Linked DNA regions of Homo sapiens: regions 1, 2, 3, 4, 5 and 7 are each reported to be linked to region 6. The links are microRNA targets in miRTarBase. Many come from high-throughput screens and were not tested one by one. Region 6 holds a microRNA gene; each other region holds the end of a gene's coding sequence. Distances are from middle to middle.

What was found. Region 6 holds the annotated microRNA hsa-miR-3122 (GUUGGGACAAGAGGACGGUCUU, at 1,536-1,557, shown strand). A microRNA usually pairs through its seed, bases 2 to 8, with sites in the 3' UTR of a target mRNA and lowers its output. Matches are read on the target gene's strand: a 7mer-m8 pairs with bases 2 to 8, a 7mer-A1 pairs with bases 2 to 7 and ends in A, and an 8mer does both.
Region 1: the mRNA of PPFIBP1 is a reported target of hsa-miR-3122. Seed matches in the 3' UTR shown: 7mer-A1 at 1,563-1,569 and 7mer-A1 at 3,007-3,013.
Region 2: the mRNA of PCDHB11 is a reported target of hsa-miR-3122. Seed matches in the 3' UTR shown: 7mer-A1 at 3,443-3,449, 7mer-A1 at 3,137-3,143 and 7mer-A1 at 2,669-2,675.
Region 3: the mRNA of TTC21B is a reported target of hsa-miR-3122. Seed matches in the 3' UTR shown: 7mer-A1 at 1,462-1,468.
Region 4: the mRNA of CLCN6 is a reported target of hsa-miR-3122. Seed matches in the 3' UTR shown: 7mer-m8 at 2,583-2,589.
Region 5: miRTarBase lists AKIP1 as a target of hsa-miR-3122. Seed matches in the 3' UTR shown: 7mer-A1 at 3,201-3,207.
Region 7: miRTarBase lists RNF24 as a target of hsa-miR-3122. Seed matches in the 3' UTR shown: 7mer-A1 at 1,589-1,595.

Annotation. Positions count from the first base shown.
Region 1 is chr12:27,692,370-27,696,369 of GRCh38, forward strand. PPFIBP1 (PPFIB scaffold protein 1) reads left to right here. Exons shown (of 30, transcript NM_003622.4): 29 at 222-287; 30 at 427-3,195. The coding sequence ends at 513. It overlaps MRPS35-DT (MRPS35 divergent transcript), which reads right to left. Exons shown (of 5, transcript XR_001749448.2): 4 at 113-173. Among named protein-coding and RNA genes, the nearest start is that of REP15, 2.1 kb to the right of the region's middle.
Region 2 is chr5:141,201,405-141,206,010 of GRCh38, reverse strand. It overlaps PCDHB11 (protocadherin beta 11), which reads right to left. Exons shown (of 1, transcript NM_018931.3): 1 at 2,232-4,606. The coding sequence ends at 3,843. It also overlaps PCDHB@. Among named protein-coding and RNA genes, the nearest start is that of PCDHB11, 4.1 kb to the right of the region's middle.
Region 3 is chr2:165,870,964-165,875,569 of GRCh38, reverse strand. It overlaps TTC21B (tetratricopeptide repeat domain 21B), which reads left to right. Exons shown (of 29, transcript NM_024753.5): 29 at 738-2,208. The coding sequence ends at 815. It overlaps LOC100506124 (a long non-coding RNA gene), which reads left to right and starts at 3,629. Exons shown (of 4, transcript NR_045375.2): 1 at 3,629-4,606. RefSeq lists an enhancer at 817-1,016.
Region 4 is chr1:11,839,276-11,843,881 of GRCh38, reverse strand. It overlaps CLCN6 (chloride voltage-gated channel 6), which reads right to left. Exons shown (of 23, transcript NM_001286.5): 23 at 752-3,739. The coding sequence ends at 3,659. It also overlaps NPPA-AS1. Among named protein-coding and RNA genes, the nearest start is that of NPPA, 6.2 kb to the left of the region's middle.
Region 5 is chr11:8,918,494-8,923,099 of GRCh38, reverse strand. It overlaps AKIP1 (A-kinase interacting protein 1), which reads right to left. Exons shown (of 6, transcript NM_020642.4): 6 at 3,021-3,763. The coding sequence ends at 3,620. It overlaps C11orf16 (chromosome 11 open reading frame 16), which reads left to right. Exons shown (of 7, transcript NM_020643.3): 6 at 1,585-1,806; 7 at 2,650-3,024. The coding sequence ends at 1,784. Among named protein-coding and RNA genes, the nearest start is that of AKIP1, 9.6 kb to the right of the region's middle.
Region 6 is chr1:212,076,087-212,080,692 of GRCh38, forward strand. It overlaps MIR3122 (microRNA 3122), which reads left to right and starts at 1,527; the gene lies at 1,527-1,599. It overlaps DTL (denticleless E3 ubiquitin protein ligase adapter), which reads left to right. Exons shown (of 15, transcript NM_016448.4): 12 at 2,087-2,176; 13 at 4,529-4,606.
Region 7 is chr20:3,930,019-3,934,624 of GRCh38, reverse strand. RNF24 (ring finger protein 24) reads left to right here. Exons shown (of 6, transcript NM_001134337.3): 6 at 424-4,606. The coding sequence ends at 562. Among named protein-coding and RNA genes, the nearest start is that of MIR103B2, 15 kb to the right of the region's middle.

The DNA.
Region 1 (4,000 bases), not on the chromosome of region 6:
TATTAGCAAAGGCATTAGACTAGCTGTGTCAGTAAAGTGTCTCTTCTAATTTTTCACTTCCAGTTGCAGTGGTGAAAGGAGATTATCACCAGAAGTGTTCTGTTGCTCTTACCCCATTCAGTGCTATTTGCATTATTTCTTCTTAGACTTTTGTTCCTCCTGCTGCACTTTCCCTGAAATTGTGAAAACACTTATGTCATGTTATGGTTTGTTATTTGCAGATGGAAGATTCAGAAGGGACAGTGAGACAGATAGGTGCATTCTCTGAAGGCATCAACAATCTGACGGTGAGTTTGTGAAATGAATTGAAAATGTTATTCTATAAATGTCTTTTATAACAACCCCAAAGGACCACATGTCTCTTGGAGAATGTGTAGCTCTGAGCTCTTGGCTCTCAGTGTGACTCCCTGTCTCCTTGTTTTCCAGCACATGTTAAAAGAAGATGACATGTTTAAAGATTTTGCTGCCCGTTCCCCCAGTGCCAGCATTACAGATGAAGACTCAAACGTTTGACCGTAGCACCTGGATGAACATTAGGAGTGCTTAGTCTTTTTTCTACTTGCTTTTCCAAACACTCACAGTATATACAACAGGCAGCGGATTGTCTATTGTTTGTTGTTCCAACTTCTGCTGTCGAGAAGTTTAAACAGAAAGCAGGAGTAATGTGCCGATTCTGAAGTTGCCACAAAAAATAAGACACTGGTGAATGAGAGTATAATTGTTTTTCTTCTATTTAATGTAAAAATCTGTGATATATTATATTTAAAGTGTTGCATTTAAGATGAGTATTTTACCAGAGTGTTTCCATTCATATCCGCGGTATGGAGGATTTGAGGAACAGTAACCAGGATGTGAATGATTTTGTTACATCAGTGTTCACTGTAGCCACCTAAGTAGGACATTATATGATTTCAGAATCAATATGTGGAACTTCTTTAAGCATTCAGTGTGCCCACTAAATGCCAGCCACACCTCCACTTGCCTCTTATTGTCTTATTTTTATATATTTTTCTAAATATATGTATATATACAGTACATAGAAAATAGAACTTTTATTTTGTGACCTAAGGACGATGGTGAAAAGATCACGTTTTCAAAACAATCTGGTGATCAGAATGTTCATATACCAGCTGGTTTCTGAAGAGGTCAGAATGATCTTTCTCCATACTGACTTTTAACAATGTTGATCATTGAGGCTAAATTAATATATATGAAATATTCCTTTTTGATGACACCACAAAATTGTTGAACAGTTTAAGAATTTCAACCTTAATCTTGGATCCCTTTACCTCATATGGAAGAACTTGAGGGACATTAGTATACTTTTTTTTAAGATGGAGTCTTGCTCTGTCACCCAGGTTGGAGTGCCATGGCATGATCTTGGCTCACTGCAACCTCCACCTCCTGGGTCAAGCCATTCTGCTTCAGCCCCAAGTAGGTGGGACTCCAGGCATGCACCACCATGCCTGGCTAATTTTTGCATTTTTAGTAGAGACAGGGTTTCACCATATTGGCCAGGCTGGGACTCGAACTCCTGACCTTGTGATCTGCCCGCCTCAGCCTCCCAAAGTACTGGGATTATAGGCATGAGCCACCACGCCCAGCCTGTTATTTTTTTATTATTATTGTTTTTTTTTAGTGACAGAGTCTCATTCTGTTGCCCATGCTGGAGTGCAGTGGCGTGATCATAGCTCACTGCAGCCTTGAATTCCTAGGCTCCAGTGATCCTCTCACCTCAGCTTCCCTAATAGCTAGGATTACAGGTGTGTGGCCTCCCACCCCACCCCACCCTTCACACCTGGCTGATTTTTCAAAAAGTTTTTTTGTAGAAACAGGGTCTCACCATGTTGTCCAGCCTGGTCTCAAACTCCTGTCCTCAAGTGATCCTCCCACCTCAGCCTTTCAAAGTGCTGGAATTACAGGTGTGAGCCACTCTGCCTGGCCTACCACTAACTTGAATACATTCAGAATCACCTCCTCTCCCCAAAATTTGTAGAAATAGTTTTTGAGGAAGCCAAAAGCAAAGCAGAAACCTTTACAGTATTGTTTCTTTTCTCTTTGTTAACTGTGTCATTACAGCAAAATACTAGCAGTCTGCCTAAACATGTTCATTGTACATTTCTCAGGCTATCAATGAATGGAGGTTTTTAAAAAGTTGAATATTTGTCTGAACATTTTATTTCAAAGTTCAAAAAAACAGAGGCTGCAAAATTCATTTTATAATGGCTATTTTGTGACGATAAGATGTAGTTCATGTTTTTCTGTAGCACTGGGCCCAAATATTCTTTGTAAAGAAAATCGCTGCAGCAAAAACTGTTACTGTGTTTATTATATTTGTAGAAGTATTAGAAAAATATTCTATTTTTTATTCAGTGCTGCGTAATTACCCATGGTAGCCAACCCTACAAAAGACAGGTTTTCACAAATTGAGGTGGAGGTGGGCGGTTCAGTATCTGCCACTGGACTTGATTATAAACTGTATTTGAATATCAGTGGTATTATCTTTTAAGTTGTCAGCAAGTTACCAAGGTATTCATTAAAGAACTTGTAATATCAAATTACTATTTATTCATAACAATTGATTTGATGCTAATAATAATTTTCTTTAAACTCTACCATTCATTATGTGGTAACTGTATTGAACTTACTTTATTTGGATTTTATTTTAATGTGACTAGATGTCACCACTTCAAAAAATCAATTTGTTCTTAGAACCTGGTTGAAAATACCAGGAAACTGTTACAGACGCCATTTTTTTTTTTTTTGAGACGGAGTCTTGCTCTGTTGCCCAGGCTGGAGTGCAGTGGCACAATCTCAGCTCACTGCAAGCTCCGCCTCCTGGGTTCACGCCATTCTCCCACCTCAGCTTCCCAAGCAGCTGGGACTACAGGTACCTGCCACCACGCCTGGCTAATTTTGTTTTTGTATTTTTAGTAGAGACGGGGTTTCACCGTGTTAGCCAGGAAGGTCTCAATCTCCTGACCTCGTGAATCGCCCCCCTCGGTCTCCCAAAGTGCTGGGATTACAGGCGTGAGCCACCATGCCCGGCCCAAATATTTTTTATTCAGGATGGTATAACCTAACTGATAATAGGTAATAAGGTTAAATTTTTTTATGACGTATTTTATTTACAAATATCATACACTGCTGGTGTTACCATATGAAAGGAAATAAAGTCAATTGATAATTGCCTCATTTTTATTGCCCTTATTTCATTTTCCGTTGTTCATAGTAACAGGCTTTGTTTCTGACATAGAAAATAACACAATCTCTTTATAAACTGCCATAAATTTGTTCGAATGGAGTTTATAATGTGTATCAACAGATAGGAATTTGAGGCCTTTGTTTGAGAAGCTTTTGTAGGAAAAGAAGCAACTGAGCTGGGGAATGAAGAATCATGGCAGAAGGTAAAAGAAACAAAAACAAACAAAAAAAGAAAATAGGAAAAGCAAATGGAAATGACTCACCTAGAGATTGGAAGAAGTTAGTTGTAGAAAGAGGTGTATGGATATTTAAAAAACTAACATAGGGCTGGGTGCAGTGGCTCATGCCTATAATCCCAGCACTTTGGGAGGCCGAGGCGGGAGGATTGCTTGAGCCTAGGAGATTGAGACCAGCCAGGACAACATGGTGAAACCCCACCTCTACAAAAAATACACAAAAATTAGCCAGGTGTGGTGGTATACACTTGTAGCCCCAGCTACTCAAGAGGCTGAGGTGAGATCACCTGAGCCCAGGGAGGTTGAAGCTGCAGTGAGCCATGATTGCGCCACTGCACTCCAGCCTGGGTAGCAGAGTGAGACCCTGTCTCAAAAAACAAAAACAAAAAGAACTAACGTGCTATTTTTACTTCAACTAAAACTTGGAAAGAGGAAACATGTTGGAAGAGATTACCAAAGATTAAAAGTAGAGTGAATATAACCTAGATAGAACAGATGTTTTGTGTGAAATTTAGTATCTTTAACTTAATAAACCAGCAGGAACTGTATGAACACAACAC
Region 2 (4,606 bases), not on the chromosome of region 6:
AGAAAGGAAAAATGGCTTATAGTCTTATAGAGTCAATCTAGGAGGTCTAATATTTAACTGAGATTTTCATTGAAGTGAGAATCCAGAAAACTCAGAGGAGAAATTATGAGTAAAACATACCAAGGAAATTCCTTTTAACAAATTGTTTTTGTGTAGAGATAGGTTCCCACTATGTTGCCCAGGGTGGTCTCAAACTCGGGGCCTCAAATAATCCTGCCTCAGCTTCCCAAAGTACTGGGATTGCAGGTGTGAGTCACCATGCCCAACCAAAATTTCTCAGAAATAAAATTGATAGTCTGAACATTAGCCAAGGGGTCTAGCACATGCCTGTAGTCCCAGCAACTTGGAAGGCTGAGGCAGAAGTAGCTCTCGAGTTAGAGCTTGCAGGGTGCTGTGATTGTGCCTGTGAATAGCCACTGCACTCCAGCCTGGGTAACACAGTGAGACATCATCTTAAAAAAAAAAGAAAAGTTAAACATGAACAGGGCATAGCGATATAACCAGATTAATCAATAAAGAGCCAGTACTAAGGTATTTTCAGAAGACCAGGGGAATTTTTTTCAATGCTCACAGAAAGAAAGAAAAAAAGGGGGGGAATCACATAAAAAGACATAGGAATCAGAATGGAATCAGTCTTCTGAACAGCAATTCTATATGCAGTCAATAAAAGGAGCAGTGCTTTTGAAATCTGAGGGAAAATTATTTTCAACCTAGAATGTTATGCCCAAACTATCAATCAAATAAAAAAAAAGAAAATAACAAAGCAAGCTCTCAAAAAGTTTTATTTCCTCTGTATCCATTTTTATGAAGGTACTGAGAGATGTGCATCAACAAAATAAGTGAGTAAACTAAGAAAGAAGAATGTACTGGATCTTATAAAAAAGGACCAACAAAGAAAAATATTTTTTAAAGTCCTAGGGTGACAGCCTATAGAGCAACCAGTATGAATGAAGTAGAGATCTGGGTGCAAGATCACCAAGAAATAAACATAATTGACAGGTATCTGATATATTTGAATATTTTGAGAAGAAAGAGATTCAAATTAGAGAATGTAAAGAAACTAATATTAGTAAATGGAAAATTATGTAAGTACAAAACAATTTTCAGTTCTAGGAAAAATGTTTCTCAAGAAAGGAAATTTAATCACACTACACTAATGTGTATTTTGAAGAAAGCTTAGCAATATGGACACTATTAGTTTAACTTAAAAAAAACTGTAGGCTGGGCACTGTGGCTCACGCCTGTAATCTCAACACTTTGGGAGGCTGAGGCAGGAGGATCAGCTGGGGTCAGGAGTTCAAGACAAGCCTGGCCAACATGGTGAAACCCCATCTCTACTAAAGCTACAAAACTAGCCAGGTGTGGTGGTGGGTGCCTGTAATCCCAGCTATTCAGGAGGCTGAGGCAGGAGAATCACTTGAACCTGGGAAGCAGAGGTTACAGTGAGCTGAGATCACACCACTGTACTCCAACCTGGGCGACAGAGTAAGACTCTGTCAAAAAGAAAAAAAAAACTGTAACAATTTTATTGGGAGAATAGGAGAAAGGGAATGTGCAGTGCTTATATTGGTTTACATTAGTTGAAAAGAAAGTTAAATCTTTTTTAAAAAATACATAGCAAGAAGTGATTAAAATGTAAAATGGAGTAGCAAGATTTAACAGCAAAAACATATCATTTAGAAGTATTGAGGTAATTCTAGAAGAAGCCACTCAATAGAAGGAGACTGGAAATTAAAGAAAATATTGTTCTGTTCTTTTCTTTTCTTTCTTTCTTTTTTTTTTTTTTTTTTTTTTTTTTGAGACGGAGTATCGCTCTGTCACCCAGGCTGGAGTGCAGTGGCAAGATCTTGGCTCACTGCAACCTCTGCCTCCTGGGTTCAAGTGATTCTCCTGTCTCAGCCTCCTGAGTAGCTGGGATTATAGGCACGCACCACCACACCCAGCTACTTCTTGTATTTTTTAGTGTAGATGGGGTTTCACTGTGTTGGCCAGGCTGGTCTTGAACTCCCAACCTCAGGTGACCCGCCCGCCTCAGCCTTCCAAAGTGCTGAGATTACAGGTGTGATCTAACCCACCCAGCCAAGCCACTGAGGCAGGCCTTGTTTTTCTTTCAACCTTTAGTTCATCTTGATTTTTACATTTGAAAATAATGAAATAAATTTACAAAATAAAAGGAAAAGTGAATATCTTTCCAACAGTCCACCAATATCCTCATCCCAAAATTATCAAAATGTTTTAATATTCCTATTTATTTTCATGCAGTTTATTACATTTTGTTTGGATTATAAGCCATGATCTCTCTCTCTCTCTATATATATATATACACACACAAAAGCATTAAAAATATTAGCCAAGTAAGTGTAGTATATTTAAGAAAATAATACAAGCACAAAGTTAGTATTGAAGTATAATATTGATCACAAAATAATATTTAATTTACCATGAGCACATTAATAATGAAATGTTTCTCTTTAAATGCTGTGATTTAGAACTAGATGATGTGGCTTTTTAAATGAATAAATAGAATGTTAGAATAAGGTTGGAAGGGCAGATATGACTTCTCCCATGAAGAAACTACAATACACAGGTGGTTAGGATCATAGGATGCAGACAGTGAAAAATACTAGGGGAGCCTGGGCACGGTGGCTCACGCCTGTAATCCCAGCTTTTTGGGAGGCTGAGGCGGGCGGATCACTGATATCAAGAGTTAGAGACCAGCCTGACCAACATGGTGAAACCCCGTCTCTACTAAAAATGCAAAATTAGCTGGGTGTGGTGGTGCACCTGTAATCCCAGCTACTCGGGAGGCTGAGGCAGGAGAACCCGGGAGGCAGAGACTGCAGTGAGCCGAGATCACGCCATTGCACACCAGCCTGGGCGACAAGAGTGAAACATCGTCTCAAAAAACAAAACAAAACAAAACAACCTAAGAGAAAAATCAAAGTCAGTTTTCTAGAATAAGAAATAATAATCAGTAAATTATTGTACACTTGGAAAGGATTAAAACCTTAAAATTATTCATTAGAAATGGATTAACTACCTGTTACTTAATATAAAAAGGATTTACAATGTTATTCACAATGATATGCAATACTTGAAAATTGAAAATAGGCCTGGCCGCCTGTAATCCCAGCACTTTGGGAGGCTGAGGGGAGTGCATCTCTTGAGCTCAGAAGTTAAAGGCCAGCCTAAGAAATATGGTGACGATCCGTCTCTACAAAAAATACAAGAAGTAGCCGGGCATGGTGGCGCACGCCTGTAGTCCCAGCTACTTGGAGGCGGAGGTGGGCTGGTCTCTTGAGCCCAGGAGGCAGAGGTTGCAGTGAGCTGAGATCCTGCCACTGACCTCTAGTCTGGGTGACTAAGACTCTGTATCAAAAAAAAGAAAAGAAAAGAAAAAAAAAAGGCCGGGCGCAGTGGCTCACACCGGTAATCACAGCACTTTGGGAGGCCGTGGCGGGTGGAACATGAGGTCAAGAGTTTAAAACCTGCCCGGCCAACGTGGTGAAACCCCGTCTCTACTAAAGATAAAAAAAAAAAAAATTTAGCCGAGCGTGGTGGTGGGCGCCTGTAATGCCAGCTACTCGGGAGGCTGATGCAGGAGAATTGCTTGAACCCGAGAGGCGGAGGGTGCAGTGAGCTGAGATCACACCATTGCACTCCAGCCAGGGCGACAGAATGAGACTCGGTCTCAAAAAAAAAAAAAAAATTGGGGGAGAAAAGAAAAAATTAAAAATACAATTAGTCGTATTGCATAATAACGTAACTAGTTTAAGACTAAATAATATTGATATGGTTACATAAAACTAAAAAAGTACATGCAAATGTAAATAGCATTCTTACTAAAAATTAAATCCAAAGCTATTTCGAAAGGTGGAGTTTTCTTCACTATTCTTCCCAAGACCTTTTGCCTGGATATTAGGGATAACCGGTTTTAGGAACTTGAATTCATTTGTCTCGGAACCTCCCGTCAGACACACCTCGTACTGGTAGCTCTGGGAAAGGGTCCCGGTGCCGCTCACGTCCACCAGATGCCCTGGAAAGGGGCCCTTAGGCACCGAGCAGCTTCCCACCGAGGCCGCCCTGCTCCTCCTGCACAGCCGCACCGCCACGAACAGGAGCACCGAGAAGAGGAAGAGCGAAGACACCGAGGCCAACGCCACCACCAAGTAGACGGTGAGCGAGTCGGCCTGGGCCTGGGCCGGTGCCGCCTCAGGGAGCGGCAGGTAGGGCTGGGAGAAGCCGTCCACCAGGAGCACTTGCAGCGTGGCGGTGGCCGAGCGCGGAGGCTCGCCATTGTCCTTGACCAGCACCACCAGCCTGTGCTTGGCCGCGTCGCGCTCGCTCAGCAGCCTGGCGGTGCGCACCTCGCCATTGTGCGCCCACACGCCGAATAGCCCGGGCTCCGTGGCCTTGAGCAGCTGGTACGACAGCCAGGCGTTCTGGCCCGAGTCGCCGTCCACCGCCACCACCTTGGTCACCAGGTAGCCCGGCTCGGCCGCCCGGGGCACCAGCTCGGTGCAGGGCGCGGAGCCGTTCTGCAGCGGGTACAGCACGAAGGGCGAGTTGTCGTTGGCGTCCAGCACCAGCACGCGCACCAGCGCCT
Region 3 (4,606 bases), not on the chromosome of region 6:
TTAAATTACAGTTTTAGAATTTGTAGAGTCTCTTTATATATACATTGTCCCATTGATATTCCATATAAGACATTCTATTAAACATTGTAAGGACCTCCAAGAAAAGTTCATTAGAAAAGAATTTTGTAATGCCCCTTATCCCACACAGCAATCTGTTAGCATCATTACAGTAAATACTTGGCCTTAGTAATTGCTGTTGATTACTGAGTCTCTGTAAAGCAGTATTTCAGTCAGGTTAGGGTTGTGTGTTAATGTAAGGCTATATATTAGGATCATTTTTGGAGTTAAAAAAAAAAACTAGCATCTCCCCACTCTTAGACTCAGTAGAACTAGAAATACGTATGTCTCAAGATCATTTCAGGTAAAGCTAATGTGTGCTGCTGTATAAAAGTCACTCTCTAAGGGTTTATCAGATATTATGAATGAAAAGCTAAATTACAAAAATATTTTAAATCATTGATACATAATTGTTTTATACAATTCATCTATTAGGTAAGCAGTTGTTTGTTATATTTTCTGCATTTGATATTTACATTCTATTGTTCTCATCTAACTACCATTAATATAAAGGAGTCATCATGTTACATTTAAAATGCCACCATTAAAAAGTGTTATAGCTGTTGTAGTATTAGTACAAGGAAATCTTAACTGTAATGCTCATTTCTTATAAGTTTTGTAACTCCGTAGTTTTTGATTATTAGTTACAAGTTTTTATGGGTTCTTTATTTGTTTTGCAGGTTCTTGAAGCACATCCAACTTATCCAAAAATCAGAAAGGATATACTTGATAAGGCCCGTGCGTCTTTAAGACCTTGAAAATAATTTTAACTTAGGTGTTGGTTTAACAGGAAATGAAAGAAATCTAACTTTCAGTTCTTCCTGTTCAAAACAGGTTTGAGCTCAGTGCTTTGTTATTAGAAGTATACCCTTTTTTCTCCAGCAGAGGTTGCTGCTGTACATCAAGAGAAGTACTATGTGAAATTGGTGTTTCCTAATGGAGTTGAATGAGAGCTGGTCTATTTGACTCTGTTTTGATTGGGTACAGATTTGGTGACTCTGTGGTAAAGACTATAATTATTTCTATAAAGAATATTTTGTTAAAATCTAGGTAATTAAATACCCTGTATCTTTTCTAAGGAATATTATTTCAGGAAATATATTTAAAATGCATTGTTCTCTTTTAAAGTGTTTTTGTTATATTCTTTTATTTATTTATTTATTTTTAAAGACAGAGCCTTGATCTGCCGCCCAGGCTGGAGTGCAGTGGCACGATCTTGGCTCACTGCAACCTCCGCCTCCTGGGTTTACGCGATTCTCCTGCTTCAGCCTCCCGAGTAGCTGGGACTAAAGGCATGTGCCATCACACCCGGCTAATTTTTTGTATTTTTAGTAGAGATGGGATTTCACCGTGTTAGCCAGGAGGGGCTTGATCTCTTGACCTTGTGATCCACCTGCCTCGGCCTCCCAAAGTGCTGGGATTACAGGCATGAGCCACCGCACCCAGCCTGTTTTTGTTGTATTCTGTGTTGTTTCAAAAATTGGAATAAATCTCCCTGTAAATAACTCATGAAAAAGACAATATATATATTTTAAATATATATTTTAATAAAGGTTTTATAAATAGATGATTTATATTCCTCTTGGAACTCAAAAGATGTGGTAAGTTTTGCAAATCAGGGTAAGCTCCCCCTGCATTCTGTAATGTTAATGGGTGGTGGTATAGTACAGAAAATGTAACTTTCATTGAAAAATCTTTTTTAGAAAAGGGTAGAGTGTGTGTTTCCCTTTCCTTTCTTGAGCTCATTCTTCCTGCTTTCAAGGCCATTGTGGTCTTAAGAAATAATCAGGTCCTGAAACCTCAATTTAAATAGGTCCCTTATTAGGGATATTTAACCTTAGCCTAGAAGACTTGGTCTGCAGGTATAATTTCAGACACTGTAACATTTGATGGTAAAGGGTGACCAAATACTTTTGGTCAGCAGGGAGTCACAAAGCACACCATGTGAAGGCAACGGTTTACCCAGCTCTGTTTAACAGCACCCTGGCATAGAAGCTTTCACTCTCTTACACTAAATTTAACCTAATCTAAACTTAATCCTTAGCATTATTTTTAATTTCTCATCTACATCTTTTTCAATTTTCCTTAAAATTGTAGTAAACACAGTCCTCAATTTTATTTGCATTTACAATAAACAGTATTTATAAGTCATTTGCTGCTTTTTATTAAATGTCCTGTGTTTGTTTTGAACTCCATTCTCTTGTTTCTGATCATTTCTCCCATTTTTCAAAATCCCTTTAATTTCAATTACGTTATAAAATTCCAATTATTCTTCTTTTCACTTAGCAAAACAGTTTTTTGTGGGGTTTTTTGTTGTTGTTGTTCTTTGAGACAGAGTCTTACTCTGTAGCCCAGGCTGGAGTGCAGTGGTGCGATCTTGGCCCACTGCAACCTCTACCTCCTGGGTTCAAGCAATTCTCCTGCGTCAGCTTCTTGAGTAGCTGGGACTAAAGGCACACGCCACCACGCCTGGCTAATTTTTGTATCTGCAGTAGAGATGGGGTTTCGCCATGTTGGCTAGGCTGGTCTCGAACTTCTGGCCTCAAGTAATCTGGCCGCCTTGTCACCTAGCTTTTATTTATGGCATTTCATAGAATGTTTAATAATAGAATTTATAAGTCACTTCATATATGTTAAAATACTTTCATATTCCTTACATTTGATCTTCACAAACCTAAAATGCCGGCATTATTATCCCTGTTTTACAAATCTGGAATCGTGAAACATTACCTCTTTTTCTTTAATTCAGGTGGAGAAATATCTTTCAGCCTGAGTGGACATTTTTAAGGACAATGCTATGGACTGAATGTTTGTGTACCCCAAACTTCGTATGTTGACATCCTAGTCTTTAATGTGATAGTATTGGGAAGTGAAGCTTTAGGAAATAATTAGGTCATAAGGCTGAAGCCCTTGCGAGTGCGATTAGTGCCCTTAAAAAGAGGATCCCAGAGAGTTCTCTAGCTATCTTTCTACCATGTGAGGACAAAATAAGAAGTCAACTATTTGCAACCCAAAAGAGGGTCCTCACCAGAACCTGGTGGTGCTGGAACCGTGATCTCAGACTTCCAGCCTCCAGAACTGTGAGAAACAGATTTCTTTTGTTGATAAGCCCACCAGTTTATGATATTTTATTATTGCAGCCGGAGCTGACTCAGGCAGAAATCACATTAACAGAATGCCTTTAGTAGTTCCAGTGAACTTGTGTCATGGGATGCTGGAATCATGGAAATTGGATAGAGAAATAGAGCATCTGTTCTCTCAGCAAGACATTTCCAAATCAGTTTTCCTATCTGTAAGAGGAGAGGAAGGTTTTGTTTTTGTTTCTTAAGCAGCCATTTATTTTGCACCTGCCATTTGTTAGATGCTATTTTAGGGACTTTCCTTACTTTATGTCTTTTAATTTTCAGTCAGCTATTAAGAGAAATAATATTCCCACTTTTCAGATAAGAAAGGTGAGACCTGGACTAAATGATTTGCCCAGGGTCACAGAGAAAAGTGTCAGAACCTGAATTCCATACTGGCCCAGTCAACTTCAAAGCCTCTGCCTTATTTATTATATTAAGATGCCTTCTATAACTAAGAGATAATGTTTCTGTAAGAAGAAGTGATCTTTTCTACATCTGGCTAGCAGAAGAAACTGGTGTATCACAGAGATAGCTAAATAATGAAGAACAAGATGGACTGAGTGGAATGAACAGCTGTTACAAATGTAGAAACTATTAAAGAGCAGTCTAATTGAGGAGCACTATAGTGTAGCAGTCAAGAGCATGGATCTGAAATCAGACCAGCCTGGATTTAAGTTTTGGCTCTACCATTACCTAGATGTTTCATCTTTCTCCAAGTTACACACTCTCAGCCTCAGTTTTCTCACCCATAAACAAGCATATAAGGATAATAACCTGCCTCAGGTTGTAAGGATTAAAGGGAACTTATATAAAACCTATAATGAATCTGACTCACTAGGCTCTTAATAGTAGCTCCTCTTATAAGCAGAACAGGGCAAAGTAGTAATTGCAACTGAGAAGAGAAAATGCAGTTCAAAGCAAGATTAAAAGGATGAGTAAAGTCCCCTAGAGAGCTCAGCCCTACAGGATTTGAGATTCTCATTCATTCACACCTTCCCTCCTTCCTTCCCTTCTAATTTTTGTTCAACTACTTCCCTCTTTTCCTCTCTCTCTACCCACCAACCATTATGCTAGACTCCACATGCAGCATCTCATTTTATCCACCTGGAGCTTGCTTTTGCCCTACTCTCCTCAGTGGAGAATTCTCTTCCTCCTGTCCCTCCCTTCACCCCCGCTTCCTGTCTCTGAGCTTCCTTCTCCAGGTTTGCTCCTTTCCATCAGGTATCACTTTATCACCACCTCCTCAAAGAGGCCGTGTTCATGTCCAGGCCCACAATCTCAAGTAGCCATCCTGTGATTCTGTATCATATTATCCTTTTTAAACTCTATGCAGCATTTACTACCTCTGATGTTTTTTCTTCTTTAAGGATTTGATTGCCTTATGTGACAAGCCCAAGATCTGTGACAGTTGGAGCTCAAACTAG
Region 4 (4,606 bases), 200 Mb from region 6:
TCCAGACCCAGCAGCAGTTTCACTTCTTCTGGTTGGACATCGGGGCAATCTGTGTGTGGGGCAACTTCCTAAACACCAGGAAGAAACAGAATGGATTCCCCATCCGCTGCTCCTCCAGGACGCGGCTGCTAGCAGGAGGAGATGAATTCTAGAGGAGAGGATCAGGAAGAGTGTTCATCTGAAGGGAGAAACAGACAACGGTGACCTCTGCTAAGATCCACAGGATGAAATCTGTTCTTATTAAGGTCACTGTCTAATACAGAGAAGTGGACCCGCAAGAATGAAGAGCCCCACTGCCCAGCTGCATAGGGAGAGCTCTGAGACTCTAAAACTACGTCCTAGTGTAATTTCCACACATCAGAAAGAGGGGGAGTAAAATAAAAAGCAAGTATCCCTTGAAAGAAAGAGCAGCAGGGCCGGGCGTGGTGGCTCACGCCTGTAATCCCAGCACTTTGGGAGGCCGAGGCGGGTAGGATCACCAGGTCAGGAGATTGAGACCATCCTGGCTAACATGGTGAAACCCCATCTCTACCAAAAATACAAAAAATTAGCCAGGCATGGTGGTGGGCGCCTGTAGTCCCAGCCACTCGGGAGGCTGAGGCAGGAGAATGGCGTGAACCTGGGAGGCGGAGCTTGCAGTGAGCTGAGATGGCACCACTGCACTCCAGCCTGGGTGACAGCGAGACTCTGTCTCAAAAAAAGAAAGAAAGAAAGAAAGCAGCATGGAGACAAAAGGCTAAAGGAGACAGAGGAGACAGAAGACATTTTATTCTCACATGTTAGGGTTACAATGAGAACTCCCAAGTTCCAAAGGTTCAAATAAAAATAGCATTTTACAAATTAAAAAAAATACAATTTATATACACAGTGGAATTAGCTAACATCATACAAACAAACAGTGCAAACAGAAAAAAGGAAGCTGCGACTGCGGCAATGGCCAAGGTCCGCAGAGCTGTGGTGCAATACTGCACATCAATACTGCAGGGCTGGCGAGGCCACCTTGGGCCTCTCGAAAGGCTTTCCTGTCACCCAGGGTCATGTCAGTGCATAATTCTGCATCACAAATGCCATACAGTGGACTGGGTCCTGAAAGTGTCCCTTCCAGCTGGGAACTGTTAAGTTAATCAAGGTCAGGAGCAAATCATCCCTCAGCACAAGGTCCCAAAGCCAGGGCCGGGGGCCCATTGGCCCCACTCCCTGATCACCTCGCCTAGGGGCCATGGAACACCAAGCTGGAGATGAAACACAAAACACCACTTCTTACCACCCGTAGGCTCCCCATCCACAGATCTGCTTTACTGAGGCGACTGATCACTGGGTGATGGGGCTGCTAATGGGTGAGATGCTGAAAAGGCTGGTTTCTAATGGACAGAAATGGAAGGAGCGAGGGTCACAGTTGATTTGTCATGAGTGGAGAAGTTGCTGTCTTTGGGCTTATCTGGAAAGCGCAGATGCAGAGAGAGGAGAAAAGGAAACCACGTGCCTTTGCATGGGGCCTGGGTTTGGGGCCTCCTTGGCAGCCGTCCAGTCAGTTTAGGGGAGGGAGGTATTTGCATTCTACTGTCTATCTCTGGGCTAAACTGATGGGAACAAAATATCTGGTGACTTAAACACAACAGGATGTGCACGAGGGATGAATTCCAATAACATTCACCGGGGCAGCCTCAGGGCAGGCGGCTGCTGATCCAGCCCTCGAGAGGCCGGGGTCCTCCTGCAGGGCGTTAGCTCTGCCAGCTCCAGGAAGGGGCGGGGAGAGGGGACAAAGTGTCTGTGACAGGTGATCACACCATTCTCCTGACTTGGACAATTGGCTTCCTTCTTAATAAAAGGAAGAAATAACGTGATCAAGCTCTGAACACTGCCATAAAACACAGCAGCAGCTGGCCAAATAGTAACATTTAAATAAGAATTGCCTTTTTGGTCCTTGTGATGTCCTGCGCTATTTCCTGGGAGTATTATCCCCATTTCATAAGTCAGGTGCATTCTGGGAAGCAGAAACATTTAGAAGTCAAAGCAATTTTGGTCAGGGAGATAAGAAAATGGGGAAAATGGAGGGGCCACAATCAGCTAGAAAAGACCTTGAAGCAGCCCCATCTCTGGAGTGGAATTATTCCCTAGAGTGTGCTGAGCGCAAGATCTGGACCAGCAGAGCCAGGACTGATGCTCACCCCAGGGTGAAAGGCAGACTTGGCCAAGGAGGTCGCCCAGGGCTGGGCCTGAGAGCTGTGCTGCCAGGGCCAGGTGCCGAGGCCCGTGGGCAACCTCCACGGTTTTAAAAAAAACTAAACGTAAATGAAGGCCATCTTGAGCCAAAGCACGTCTGCCCCAGGGATGCCTGCTGGGACTAATACCATGTAGAAGGTGGGGGAAGATAAGCATGAATGCCCAATGCCCAGATGCTCACTTTGGGTGCCTAGTCAGAGGGGGCGGGCCAGCCTGGAGAAGAATGACGTCACTGAACGACAGGGTGCGCTTCCCATGCTTCATGTGAAACCTTCAGGCACGTGCTGGCAGGAAGCATCTTCCCCACGCACCCTCCCTGCGGCACAGGAGGCCCTCCTGAAGGGCCTCTGTATGTAAGCTTGGGACAGCTAGTGCAGGGGAGAGAGAGGTGTTTGTGAAGGGCAGACACCCTCTTCCTCAAATAGGCCATCTGCTTTATCATAGCACATACCTTTCAGTGGTCACTGGCTCAGAAGTGCTTCCTTTCTACTTTGGAAAAAAAATGGTAGCATTCCCCAGAGTTGAGTGAAGCTGCTTTATCCAGGAGTGCCCTGCTTTCAGCTAACTTTGGTGGGTGATGCCAAGATCCTCTGAGCTCTGCCTGCTTCATCAGGAAGACGGAGATCAAAACTTAAGGAAATGAAAAAGGATCTGGGTAGAAACGTGTTACTGGGAGACTGGGAATAATCTGCAGATGGAGAGAAAGCTGCAATGTTAAGAATTAGGGTAGACGTAAATCTGATCCTATTATCAGATTGACCATCCAGGGGTTATTAGTGTGATTTTAATCCTTTATGTTTCTGGTGGGCGGTGGTTCTAAGGAGAGTCAAACCACAGGGCAAGACCAGAGCCTCTGCTCACACCCAGGAGCAGAGTGTTTCCCTTAAAACCAACTAGCGAGGATACCGTGTTAAGAGTCCCAAATAAGGGAAGGACTCTCTGAAATATTGAGAATTTTCTCAGTGCCCAATTCCTAAACCTAGTCATGAACTGTATGTTGTCACTGGCATCTCCCCAGCTTTTGCCTTGGCCAAGTCCCTCTCACACATTTAAGGCAACAGCCGGGTTCTCTAGGAAAGTAGCAAAGATGGCCAGGAACACTGCTCGGAGTGCAGCCCGGGGCCCGCCTGATTCTACCTCTGCTTCTGGCTCTGGTGGAGCCAGGGGTGGGCCTGTGCCAACACTGGAGGGTGGGAACACAGGGAGCAGGAAGTGGGAAGATCCTTGCTGGGGAAGTCAGAAAAGTCCAAGCTCTGATGGTTCAAAACCACCCCCAGGACCTCTGACCAGCAAGGTGTCCGATGACTCCCGGCTTTCTGAGTGAGTGGGTGACTGGGAATCTTCCATGCCCCGGAACAGCCCCAGCCAGCTGTGCCCGCCGGAGTGAGCATGATTTGCCTCCCCAGGCAGCACCAGGAGAGGGTGGGCTGGGCTGTCAGATGGTCTGGTAGTGCTGCCTCAGCCGGGCCTGCAGAAATTCATAGGTGAGGTTGTGCCGTGTGATGATCCCCACGATCTAGGGCAAAGAGAAGGCCTGAGTCACCTTCAGGGTAAAACCCGCTGGCGAGAACAGGAGTGACAGGAGCCGGCCCTGTTAGTTTGTCACAGAATGTGGAGGCCTGGATAGTGCACAGCCAGACACAGCTTGATTGGGATAAACAGCTAACGAGGGCTCACACACTGGAGGCCAAGGGGACAAGGTTAGCTCCAAAAAGGGCTTGGGCCAGCTGGCATCTGAACTAAAATGTCCTTCCACAGGGCACATGCTCAGCGCTCAGCTCCCATCATGACCAGCCTGCTTCACAGATGTGCAAGCGGTGGGGCCCTTGAAGTCTCCTGAGATTATGACCCCTGCCATGCCTCATACTCACCACCTTGCAAAGTGACCTATGGGAGTCATTTGTTACAGGTCGTTACAGTGGTTCCCACGTGTCACTGTTGTTGGGAACTCCAAAGCCACGTCATAAACTATGTTAGGACTCTGTCAGTGTAGTTGGCAATTACATTTCAAGGGACATAAGTTAACCTACTGCAACAAAACCTGTGTAAGTACGCACTATGCATGCCAGGGTTGTGCCGCATAGAAGAAAAGACTGAGGCCGGGTGCAGTGGCTGACGCATGTAATCCCAGCACTTTGGGAGGCCGAGGCAGGTGAATCACTTGAGTTCAGGAGTTCAAGACCAGCCTGGGCAACATGGCGAAACCGTGTCTCTACCATAAATACAAAAACTAGCTGGGCATAGTGGCGCATGCCTGTGGTCCCAGCTACTCAGGAGGCTGAGGTGGGAGGACTGCTTGAGCCTGGAAGGTCGAGGCTGCAGTGAGCCGAGATCTTGCCACTGCACTCCAGCCTGGGTGACAGAGTGAGACCCTGTCTCAAAA
Region 5 (4,606 bases), not on the chromosome of region 6:
GAAATAAATTCTATTAATTGACTATAAAGAAGATAACTATAGTATCTTCAGGTACTTGGCCGGGCTTTCCTGTTAAATACTGGATCTTGTGTTATGCTCTAGGGAAAGTTCCTGGGGCTGACCCATGAGCATCATCAGTATGTTCCCAAATATATGGAGAGCATGCCCGAGAGGGGGTGTGGAGACATGGCCATCCCCCGCCCTCACCACATGTGTGGGACTACCTGCTCACTAGTGAAGAGAAGCACAGAAAACCAGGGTCAGGGCTGAAACAAGGCAAACACCAGAGCTTTGCTTTTCTCCCCTCCAGGTTTTGTATCTTTTAAAGGAAATGTGCTGTTTTGCTTCTCCTAAACATGCTTGATGTTTAATCAGTTCTTGCTATCAGGACTTGATATCCGTTCTGTCGAGTGCTGATGCTTGACACTCAATTTTGAGCTTTGCCTCTCACAAAAGCTCTTGCATAGGTTTCTCTGTCCTCCACACTTTCCCTTACTTTCAGTTACAGGCAGTGAGAGGTTCCAATTAGATCCTAATAGTCCTAGGGAGGCCAGATTGTGAGCTGCTGGCAGGGAGGTACTTTCTGCCTCCTTTGACTGAAACAGGATTCAATCTGTAGTTTTAAAAGAAACGTAAAAAGCATTCCTTCCCTTTTAGATTGGTCTATTCCTCAGGAAGTCACATCTCCCATTATTTTTGTTTTGCCCCAATTTTTTTTTTATTTTTAGAGACAGGGTCTCACTATGTCACCCAGGCTGGTGGGCAGTGGCACGATCATAGCTCACTGCAGCCTCAAACTCCTGGGCTCAAGCAATCCTCCCACCTCAGCCTCCCAAATAGTCGGGACTACAGGTGTGCACCAATGCACCCAGTTCAATTTCTTAATATTTGTTTTCTATCAGCTTGTAATCTCTTCTTTGTGGTCTGTGTTATCAGTGATCAGTGAAGGTGTCGAAGCTCCTTTAACTGGTGGCAGTCAGTTACCTTTGCTTGCCCTACTGGCAGTTTAGAAGACACATCCAATAACTTCTTCACAACTCCAAATCTTGGGTATCAGGTAATGTTTCCCAAAAGCATAAGGTCCAGAAATGATAACAATTTTTTTCTCTAAAAATAGAAAACATTACATGGACACATTGCATGATGGCAAAAGAAAACAGGCCAGGTGTAGTGGCTTATACCTGTAACTGCAACACTTTGGGAGGCTGAGGCTGGAGGATCTCTTGAGCCCAGGAGTTCAAGACCAGCCTGGGCAACATAGTGAGACCGTTTCTACAAAAAACTAAACAATTAGCTGAGCATGGTGGTGTGCGCCTGTGGTCCCAGCTACTGGGGGCTGTAGTGAAGAGCGGGTGGCAGGTGGGAGGATGACTTGAGCCCGGGTGGCTGAGGCTGCAGTGAGCTATGATCATGCCACTGCATTCCAGCCTGGGTGATAATAGCAAGACCCTGTCTCAAATACATAATAAATGAAAAGAAAACAATGCTTGAGCTTACAGATACTTCAGTGATCCTTGTTTTAGTTCTACTTATGCCATCAAAATGGTGGCATATTCAACCTAAGTAATTGACTTTTGGGTTTAGGAACAAGATATTCCAACATCTGCAAAGAAGAAAAGGATCACAAACAGCAGAGAGCACAAACTGCAGTAGTGGGGACTACCAAGGAGCTGGTCTCGAAAGCAACCCACATGAAGCCACCGCGGACCCCGCCAGGGGAAGCTGAACACAGAAAGCGGAGTCAGAGCCTTGCAATATGTCAGTGGAACAAGAATTCCCGTTAGACTAAGAGCCCTGAGGATCTAGGTAAAGCAGAATGGCTGGAAAGGGGCTTCCTAAGGACTCCTCACATGGGTCTTAGACCTTTTGGGTCACATCCCCTTTGAGAACAGTAAAACCTATGACCCCTTGTCCTAGAAAAATGCACATACCCTCAATTTTGCATGTAATTTCAGAAGGCTTATGGAACCCATGAATTTAATCACAGGCTTCTTGGGGGTGCAAGGATCCCCGTTTAAATGACCCTCTGTTCTATGGTATTGGGTAGGGGTCTGCTTTATTAGGCCCTCTGAATATGGAGTCTATTCCTCACTAAGAATGATAATATAGCCCTACTTAAACTTTATTTCCATTATATAAAATACTGGCACCTTTCCCAAGGAAAGGTTTGTGTTCAAAATGAGAGAATCACCAGGCAACGAAACTGGGAGATGTCACAGTTCTGCTGTGGCAGCTTCAAGACATTTGGGACACAGCAATGACTTTTTTTTCTGAGACAGGATCTCACTCTGTCACTCAGGCTGGAATGCAGTGGCATAATCATGGCTCACTACAGCCTTGAACTCCTGGGCTCAAGTGAGCCGCCCACCTGAGCCTCCTGAGTAGCTAGGACCTGAGTAGCTAGGCACATGCCACCACACCTGACTAAATTTTTTACTTTTTGTAGAGATAGGGTCTCACTGTGTTGACCAGGCTGGTCTTGATTACTAGGCTCAAGTGATCTTCCTGCCTTGGTTTCCCAAAATGTTGGGATTACAGGTATGAGCCACCGCACTCGGCCACAATCAATGACTTTTTAAAATCAGTGACTTTTGATTCTTAAAATTGCAGTCAGCATAACAATGTATGGAATTTTTCCCCCTTTTATAGGTAAAGAATAAACATGGTAAATATTCGAGGAGAGTTATACAGAGTGGCTGACAAGGCCTTCTTCAACGGAAGGAGGCAGAGGACAGGCCACAGGTAACAGTCAAATAACCACCAGTATCTCCACCCCACGAAGACCTCCCTGCAGATAAGCAGCAGGAAGGCACCTGTTGTGAGGGCTATAGGAATGTGGGATCCTGCCCTGGGGCTCCCTGCCAGGGCCCTGGTGAAACTGCTTTAAGATGCCTCTTCCGTGGAAGAGGGGGTCAGCCTGCTTTGGGCAAATGTGTCCACAGCCACTCTGCCACCTTCCCATAAAGCCTAGTTGTACATGAGTGACATTTTGTTTCACCTCTTAATAAAAATGAATTCTCTTCATTTCCAAATCTCTTTATTATCATAATTAACCTTTACTTGGAAAGCAAGCAGTAAAACCTGTTCAGACAGCATCATTATATTACTTTCAGGCAAACAAGCGTGGAGGACCTCTACACCCTCAAGTTAAAAAAGGCACTGAGGCCGGGCGCGGTGGCTCACGCCTGTAATCCCAACACTTTGGGAGGCCAAGGTGGGTGGATCACGAGGTCAAGAGATCGAGACCATCCTGGCCAACATGGTGAAACCCCGTCTCTACTAAAAATACAAAAAAAATAGCCGGGCATGGTGGCGGGTGCCTGTAGTGCCAGCTACTCGGGAGGCTGAGGCAGGAGAATGGTGTGAACCCGGGAGGCGGAACTTGCAGTGAGCCGAGATCACGCCACTGCACTCCAGCCTGGGCAACAGAGTGAGACTGTCTCAAAAAAAAACCAACCAAACAAACAAAAAAGCACTGAAAGAGACAGACTCCAGTTCCCGGAAGGCTGACCCAGTCAGCACTAAAAACAGGATTAATGTATAGCTATTAAGAGAATCATACAGTGGCTTTATTCTTACTACTTAAAAAAAGGTGATGTGATGGCAGTGATGGTCAACATCACACAGGGAAGACCAGGTCCACGCTTTGTCCAGAATCAACTGCTACCACATGAGTCTTCTTGGTTAAGTCATTTGAGCCCACAGTGACAGAATAGGTCCCTGGATATACTTCTATGTAGAGGTCCTTAGAGATGTTCTCAGCCTAGAAGGAAAAGAGGATATTAGCAGTTTAGAGATTTTATACCCCAGTGCCACCATGGCCCCCCAGCAGGCTACCTGTCCTTGCAGAGGTGTGATGGAATGAAGCGCTAATGTGGGAGACAGAGGTCCTGCTTTCAAGGCTCAGCCTGCTCACGTACAACACTGTCATTTTGGTAGGTCTCAGCCTTTCCTTATTTCTAGCACTGTGATAATACCTCACAAATAAGCATGTGAAAACACTCTGTAAATGCTAAAGTGTTATATGAACATGAAGGATTATAAAAAGAACACTCTACTTGGAGTTAGGCAGAAGGAAAGGCTAGAGGCCACTGTTTTGGGGATCAGAAGTAGACAGTGGCACTTAGCACAGATGAGCAGTAATGACAAGGTACTCGGGAGTGATGAGAGCCATTCTTTTAAACGGTGCTTTGCTAAGTTCACTATCAGGAAGATGACAGGCATTTCTTTTGTCCTAAAGCTCAGAACAATTTGAGTGAATTCCATTTTGTCACTGAAGCAGCAATTCAGCTGGCTGACAAAACTCTCCCTTGGAGGACTGGTTCTCCCAGAGTACAAAACACTGGAAGCCAGAGTTAATGGAAAGATTTTATTTAGAGCCGAACTGAGCACAATCAGTCTTCCAAGGGTAGACTTCACTCATGGCTGGTAGATTACATCAGGTGTGCAGGCAGAGGATGGGTCTCAGTTCAAATGGTAAAAGGACAAAGTCACAAACCAGAAGAGAGCCTGTAATTAAGGGCCAGAGTGACACCTGGGATGCCATTACAAGCTTGCTTAATGCTGAGAAGGGGCCATAGGCAGAAGTTGTCGATTCCACTACCAC
Region 6 (4,606 bases):
CCACATTTTGTTTATTCATTCATCAGTTGATGGACATTTGAGCTGTTTCCATTTTTTGACATGAATAAAGCTGCTGTGAACATTTGTGTATAAGTTCTTGTTTAACATAGGTTTTTAATTCTCCTGGGAGTGTAGGAACAGAATTCGATTCCTAAGAATAGAATTGCTGGGTCATATAATTGTTTAACTTTCTGAGGAAACTTCCCCCCACTTTTAATGCTATGTAAAGTGCCTGGCTTAGACTTTTACTGTCGTCATTGATACCTTGTTAACGTATTCCAAAATGTTTTTCTAATGGGTCTCTTTCTTTTTTCTCTGAAACCCTATAGATAAATGCAAAAATGTGCATATATTCTATTGGTGGGTATTTAGGGGGTTTTTTGAAACTTATTTTAACCCTTGGTGTACACATTTAGGTTCTCCTAGGTATTATAATACAGAAACTGAGAAAGGACCAATATCATGAAATTAAAAAGCTATAGGCAATAAGCAGGGTGAATCAATGGAAGACAATAATGTATTTCTACCAGGGATGCTCAGTAGGACTTGAGGATTTCCTCTCCCTTCTAATTTGCTGCTACCAGACCTGTTTGGACCTTGGGTGAAGAGAAACTTAATCGACTGGGGCCATCCCAAACAGAGGAGGAAAGGAAAATTTCTGTGACTACTGGGATAGTTAGAGACGATCTTCAAAGTCTTTTCTAAAATATGTTACATTGTGAAAGAATGAATTATCTCTGTGCCATTGTAGGAGTAGGCAGTAAGTGAGATTCCTGTAGATGTGGAAAAAGCTTCCTTTCTGATAAATTTTAATTAACTCTGCAAGACAAGTTAGACTCTGCTCTTTGTCTTCTTTTGCTTTTTTAATTATTGCATATGTACCATTTAAGCCAAGAGAGGAGTATTAATGATTGAGTTGAATAACCTTATCAGTCAGTGTGTCAGATCTCTTAACCATAATCTGGGGGAATCTATTAAGTTTACTTAGTCATTCTCACAAATAATCATTCCAGAGTCACCTCCACTTTCTTCATACAAATGAGCCATGATTCAGAGCCTCAGGAAAATGAAAAGAGAATAACTTCTCTCAGCCCCAACCTCCTTGCTCTTTTGAAACACACATGCTAATAATAGTTATGTGTGTTTGTACTCGTTATTGTGCTGATTAATTCCCATGGCCTATGAAAGAGATTGACATCTCTTGAATGAGTCAGCTGTATGATGCTGTCAAATGTACATAACTGGTGGCATCTGATGATGGAAAAATATGATTCTTAGTCACATGTACAGGACAGTACAATGTGACCCTTCTTTCTGCATTAAAATATATTAAAATGCGAGTGACACTTACTTGAAAATTCAAAACTTCTCTCAGAAAATTAACTGAAATATAGTTTTAGAGGAAAAAAATGTTTTTCAGAAAGGATACCAAAGTGCCATGTAAAATATAGTTTATACCCCTTCAGAATGAAGGTTATCCAACTCAAAATGAAGGAGTATAACTTTGGGTTTTGTAAAAGTTAGTGACCAGCTCTGTTGGGACAAGAGGACGGTCTTCTTTTGGAAGGAAGACCATCATCTTGTCCGAAGAGAGCTGGTAGCATGTTTCAGAAATCTTCAGGTTTCACAGTTAATTTAGTGTTCCTAGAAGTAGCTGACTAGGGATCTGAAGATATATATGCTGTGTAAAAACAGGACTGAGTTGTCGAGTTGACTACTTAAGGATGGATAACATCCTTCCAGAAAGTTTACCACCTAAGGAATAAGGGACAATGCCAGTCTTGAATTTTAGTCAAAATATATATGGCTAGGTTGTCCTGATATGAAATAAGGACTATCCTTGTGTGTAAGCTCATGTTATTTACTTATTTTGACTGTTTTCATTGTGTTTTCTCAGATTAGTAACAGAAATATTTCATTGCCCATTGGAAATCTGTTGTTTTTTTTTTCCTAACTATAGCTAGGCAGGTCTAGTGGCCTTTGGTAACAATCCTAAAGCTCTCTAAGACACACTTCTGAATTCAAAGGCCTCTATCTGGGAAATCTAATATTGCTTTGCTGACTTGTTTGTTTTTGATTGGACTAGGTCTCCACACCCTGGCAACCTCCTACTGTGCTCCTGGGTCATTCTCAAGAGGTCACGTCTGTGTGCTGGTGTCCATCTGACTTCACAAAGGTTTGTAAATGAATCTCTATAGTTGGTTTAAAATGTAGATCACAGGTTTGTAGGTTTTTCTAAGGTTTGTTTTGAGAATGATATAAATTTTTATGTTTAAGTTGAGATTTTAAAGACCTAAAGGCCATCCAGGATCTATATTCACATTACTCAGGCATATTCTGCTTTTCTCTACCCATACCATAATGGTATTATGCCCTGTGAAATAAGGATAGATTTCTGGTTCCCTACAGTTATTTCTTTCCTAAATGTAGGATTAAGTTGTTAACTTAATTAAAATTTTCTATTAAAATCTAAGATAAAAATACAATCTAAGGTGAGAACTAGTCTTTTTTACTTTTTAGATATTATCAATGTAGTATATTAAAGGTAACATCTTGACAGCCCAATTTGGGTTTTCACATATGGCTAACAAAATGGTAACTGTGAAGTCTTAACATGTTAGGTTATCTATTGCTTAAACTATGTAAGTAGGTCTGAAATGTTTTAGATACTCCAGAAAGAAGACAATATGCCCACCTTTTAATTTTTTTATAGTGACACTTTAAGAAACAAAAAAACCCTAAAATGTAGAAAGGCCAGAAACATTAAAAACTATGTATCTATTGGAATTGCATATAATAGTAGCTCAAGTTCCAGTCATTCTCCCAAACCCCATTGCCTCTGGTCTTTGAGTTATTCTGGGTTCTACAGGAAATCTTATTTCTGTGGAGGTCTCCCCTTTCACGTATGACGTTTTGAGGTTTTGTTGCCTATTGTTCCCATCTGTTTTTTATCTTCCAGAAACTTCTCATGGTCTGGTCTATTTGTGGCATCCCTGCTAGCTTCCAGTATTGCTGTGGATTTCTCCTTATTGTTACCATTTCTGTGCTCAACTTCATGGCAGACCTTTTCTTTTTTTTTAAGTCATTACTTTAATCACCCAAAATTACATATTAATGATATTTTTTCCTCTGAGATTCCATGTAATTTCTTTTAACATGGAGGGTTGCATCTTCATGGGACTTACTAAGTTGAATGATTTTTGAATTATTCAGTTAATTATGTTATCTTTTTTTCAATTGTCATATATTATCCTTACCCCTATGCATCTCAAACATCATATATTAATTATCCTTATTTCCTGTGCTCAAAGGAAATAGCAGGGCTGTTTACCTATACTAATTTATTGGCTACTTTTTTAAGTCTTAAAAATAATTTCATCCCAAGCCTAGAATTAGGAAAGTAAAATATGGTTTGTGTTGTTTTTGTGTTTTTAATGTCTGGCATTTGGAATAGGAGAAAGCTGGGTTTAAATTCTAGCTCTTCCATTTGATTGTGGTTACTTTGGGCAAATAACTTTATTCCCATTTTGCATATGAGATTATTTGAGTACAAAGCTTTTAGAGTGTGAGAATTAAATAAGATAAAGAATGTAAACTACCAGACACATAGTAGGTGCTCTGCAAATAACTATTGTTAATAAACTATAGAAGAACTGTGAGATTCCAAACATTTCATATTGAACAGTTAAATATGTGTATCTTCTTTTGGCCTCCCAGTAAGGAAAGGAAAAAGCTGCCAGTCTCTTGGGGGCCAAGACTTAAGAGAACATGTATTCTTTTTTTCTTTCTCTTTAGTGACTGAAATAGAGAAATTATATAAACAAATGCTGGGGAACAGCTCTGGTACCAGTGGCCATTTGCCACAAGCTCTTCAAGCTGGACTTTCTCTGCCATAAAAGGCTTGGGACCAAGATCTAGAATAGTCAGATATTTTTAAAGGGACAAAGGTTATTTTTTAACTTCTTTCAGCCTAGGGAACTTGTTGTTTTCCCAGATTGCTCCTCTACCTATCTGAAAAAGAATCTCAAAAGGAATGGTTTCCTTCTACTTGTCACAGCCTACTAGAGTCATGGGCCAAGTCTGATCTTGCAAATGGTGCCATTACTTTAGCAATGTGGCACAACATGCAGAATTCAGAAGAAAGTTGTAGAAATTGAATGTTGGTAACATATACTGATTGATCATTTAACAGAAGAGTAAAAAGAGTGTCTTAACTACATATTTTGTATTTATACAGAAGATGATAAAGAGCCAGAACTTTAGATTAGATAAGAAATGACCAGTAACAAAAGACATACTAGTAGAATGTATATGAAGAATAAACTAAAGAGTCAGCTTTGTTGGAAATCTGGAATGATTCCTGAAAGCAAGAAATGGATGTACATGATCTTTAAGATATTATTTTCTATATCCTGTTTATTAGACAAAATAATTATCCAGTCACAAGGCCTTAAGACACACCTGTTTTTTAATGTATTTTGAATCTTGATTGAAATTTCTTAATTCCCTTCTTGGTACTCCCTCTTAGATTGCTACCTGTTCTGATGACAATACACTAAAAATCTGGCGCTTGAATAGAGGCTTAGAGGAGAAACCAGGAGGTGAT
Region 7 (4,606 bases), not on the chromosome of region 6:
GTGTGGGGCACTCTCCTCCCACTTCCTGCAGACATATTAATATTCTTCCTCTTATAATTTTTTGTTTTGTATTTCTGTTAGAAAAATTTATTTTCCTACTTCTCACATCCCTGCTCAGTGTATTTTGTTCTTGTAAGAAGTCATGGGTAACTGAGAGTATCACATACTATCTGTGGCTTCACACGTGGAAGATGGGAGGCTCTGGAAGGAAGAGGGGATTGCTGACCCCTTGGCCTCTCCCCACTCCTTCTCTCTGTCTCTTCCCTCTCTCCAGGGGGTGACATCCGTTCACCACCTAGGAGGGGAGCTCCTTGGACCATACAGCAGACGTTGTCTGGGTGACAGATATGGAGATGTTCAGCAGAACAGCCGTGCCATGAGCATAGGACTGACATCTTCCCCCTGTGGTGTCTCCTTCTGCAGGTGCCTTATTAAGTGGCTGGAGGTTCGTAAAGTGTGTCCCCTGTGCAACATGCCAGTTCTACAGCTGGCCCAGTTGCACAGTAAGCAGGACCGTGGACCCCCTCAGGGGCCCCTTCCTGGGGCAGAGAACATTGTATAGCTTACCGCAAGGATCAGACTGTTGCTGGACACGACGTCTGTGTGGAGCCAGGAGGAACACATGTGGTGTCTGTATGGCTGCTCTCTACCTAGGACACCAGCTGCCACTTCTTTTGCCTCATGAAGAACTCTTGGGCCAGCCAAACTGGGAACCTAGGTGTCTGGGTCTTGTGACAACCAAAGCACTTTGACACTACCCCCTGCCGAGAGAAGAGGAGTGGATGAGCCTGCGGGTTTGCCTCAAGAAACTTCATGAGGGTCTCTTACTAACTCCATTACACTCTCTCTCCTGGAGCCTCATCTCCATGTCAAGCAGGAGGGTAAAGAAGGGAACTAAGAGCAGGTCTTTCAAGCCACACCCCCACCTGCGGATGGATGGGTTTCTCTGTAGGCCATGCAGGCCTTTGTCGCAGCAAACCTTCCCAGCAGCCCTTGAGCCAAGTAAAACCAGCACAACCAGCCACCAGTGGTTGGTGAGGCAGTGCCCACAAGGCTCATGTTGTATGCCTTTGATAAGGCCATCTTGGCTTTGAGTAGCAGTGTTCCTCGTCACCCATTTCCCCCTCAGGATTACAACACCTGCTATCAAATCATCTAAGCTGAAAACATGAGATGCGCTTGGAAAGGCCTAGTCAGAAGCCATTTCCTCTTATCATTTCCCTCTCCTATGCACCAGTAAGGCCCGTCCAGAGCCCCAGCAGGGAGTGGGCCCTGAGTCCACACTGTCCCTGAGTGATCCAGGAGGCTGCCCACATCCCCACATGTGCACTGTGGTTCCAGTGTAGCTGCTGTGAGCCCACTGCCACTGCCTCAGAAGGGAGCCACTGTGAACCTCTCGAGTGGCTCCAAAGAGCAGTGGCTTTTTGAGAATGGCCCATACTTCTGGCCCGGCTGGATGAAGGGAATGCCGACCCTTTGGCCTCTCCCCCTCCTTCCATCTCTTCTCTCTCTTGCCCTATCTCTCTTTCTACTTCAGAAAAAAAAAAAAAAAAAAAAAAAAGCCTGTCATTCACTTTTTAACACTTTATCCCAAATAAGATCCCTGTGTAATTCTGAAGCTGGTGATCCACTTGGAATTGTAGATAGTTTCAGGAAGCTCCTGCAGGGCTGTCCACCGTTGGTGTGTGCCTCAGTATTTGGACTTCCGAAACTGAAAGTGAAAGTGTCTTTATAGGAGAGAAACGCATGCTGCTCTTTGGCTCTTTCTGTCCAACTTTTCTAGAAATGACTCAAAGTCCATTAAGATTTGTGAATATTGTATAAATTAGCTATGGAAAGTAGCAGGTCAGATGGAAAATTCTTTTCCACAGCCCTGCTCTCCGCCTCCCTCCATCTTAGGAGCGCCTGCCTCAATTCCTCGTCAACTGCTTTGCTCCACTCCATCCCACAGGTGTGAGTGGGGGAAGTTTTTCATTAGGAATACAGTCTGCGTGACATGGAGAATGGATGGAGGGAGCTTTGCTACTCTGCTCTTGGCATGACTCCAGGATTTTTTTCTGGAATCCAACCTCTGTCCTCTTAGGAGAAGGAACCTGTCCTTGGTTCAGATGGCTGGGCATGAGGAGGAAAATTTCCATTAGTGTAGAACAGTGCTGGACAGAATCCGGTTTGGAAAATTACAAATCCAGTTGGTCAAAATAGGCCATTTCCTATGTGTGACCTATTCGTGGTATGCCAACTGGACTGCTTCCTAAACAGGACGAGGAAAGTGAGGAATATTTTTATATGAAAGCCTTAGCCTGTCTGGCACCCATGAAAAAAACTATTTATGCACTCCTACTTTCACCGTCTTTTTGCATTCTCTATTTGTAGCACAACAGAGTTGAATGCCACAAAACACCCCGTTTATAGTGAGCTGTTTTCAGTGACCAATATCAGAAGGAGGCTTGCTTCTGGACTAGCCTCACTAATTGCCAGCAGCCACCATTTTCCATGGAATGGCCTTGGGACAGATGTCACCTCTGTTATGGGGCTCTAATAGGAAAGAGAATGTTTTTTCCCTTCCTATGATCAATACTGCAAATTATTGCTGCTCACAGCTTTTATAGGATTCTCCCAACTGAAAGTTGCAGGCTTTTTCTGTCCCTGTGCATCAGTACTAACAAAAGACAGCCTCACCAAGTCTGTATATTTGAACAGAGGCAAGTTAATTCATCCCCCCGTGTCAGAGCCACAGGCATGTTGAGGGGGTTGATACGTAGCACTGGACCAGGGCGCAAAGCCCAGATAGTTCCAGCCATGAGAGGAGAGCACAAGAATGCTCTGCACTCTGCACTCAGCACCACCTTGGGTCTGCTTTGCCCAGATGAGGGACCACTAACAACCTTCTCAGCACATGTGAATGTGGACTGGTTTTAAAATGCATTCATTCTGCTAGGATTGGGCTGGAAGCTGGAACAGTGAGAGTACTTTTTCTGCTCCTAGTCATCTCCCTTTCTCAGCGTGACATCCTCCTGCAGCAAGCCTAGTATCACTAGCAGTAGTTCCTGCGACTCTTAGCAACACAACCCGAATATTTGCTCCCTGCATCTGGGTCCTCCACCAGGATGGGCCTGCGCATCTGCATTGCTGTACAGACAAACAGGCCTTTTAATTTACATCCTCCTTTAATTCTCATTAAAATCGCAGGGTTTTTGTTTGAAAGACAGTCCTTTTTTTATTTATTTTGAAAAAGGAATGAGTTAGGGACCCCTTTATAACTCTCTTGGCTCAGACTCGAACCCCATGGTAAAGTCACCCTTTCCGCATCTATCTTCAGGAGTTGCTGGGACTTGTTACTGTGTAGCTGCGTGGGGATTCTGGTCTGCTCTTGGACCACTGGCTGGTATCCTTTGTGTGTTTCTTAAGCAGCTCAAAGATAGAATGTTGCTGGTCTGCTATGGGTTAGTGGAGCATAACTCAGCCCCAACTGGACTCCACGGGTGGCTGAACCATTAGTAGTTGCTAGGGGTACAACTGAATTCAACTGCCTTCAGAAACAGGGAACAAAACCAGCCTGACTTGATTCCTGGTTGGGTCAGTATCAGACACTAGGAAGTTGACATCTGCTGCTTTTCTTTGCCACGTGTGATTTGGTTAGGCCTGTCCCTGGCAGATAAGGTCCTTGAAGCCTATGCTTGCCTAGCCAGGGAAGGCAGGACAGAAATGGCCAAATAGGGGCAGGTGGCCCCTGGGAAGGTCTGAGCTGAGGGATACAGGGGACCTCCCACCATTGCCGGATACCCTGTTCTTGACAAGAAGATCCTTTTCCCCAGTGCCAAGCCCCTTGGATCCATCAGAGAAATAGCCTCGGGCCTTGTCCTTTTTCACAACCCCACTTCAAAATCATGTCATCTCCCTGGCCTGATCCCGCTCTAAGCTACTTTGAACAACTAGGAATTATTTTTCTCAGAGGCTTTTTGGGCATTATGAAATACATCCTGATACATCCAGGGCAGTATACCCAGAGCTCCAGGCAGAGAGTGATGGAATCACCTCTTGTCACTCACTAGCCTTAGGCCCTTCTGCAGGTTAGCCTCTCAGTCTCTTCCTTAGCTTCCTTAGCTACCACCCAGGGATTGTAGTAACGTCCCTGGCACCTCTTGTGGGGGTTAGCTGGTGCCCAGAGCCTGGTAGGCAGCAGGCCTGGTGTCATGGGGGCTGCTGATACCACATAACATCATCTGGGTTACATGGGCTCCTCTGCCATCATGATTGATAGGAACAGAACCTCAGCCAAAAAGCTTCCTGAGCTGTAGGGGCTTTCCCTGAGGCCCAGGTTCACCTGGCCCCTTTCTTCCTTGGTCATCTCTGCCTTTGCCCACAGTGAACTCTGACTTGGTTGTTCAGTGCTGAATATTTCTTTCTTAATGTTTTGAATAGGTAATCCATTCATGTGGTTCACAAATCATAAAGTAGTTAAAAGCCTTTCTTGAGTTCCTGATGCCTAGCAAGCTCCGCTCCTCACTCCATGAATACCTACTATTGGTTTGTTCCTTGGGTATCCTTCCAGAGATCATTTATGCATGTACACACATGTGTATGTGTGTCTATATAATTTTTCTCC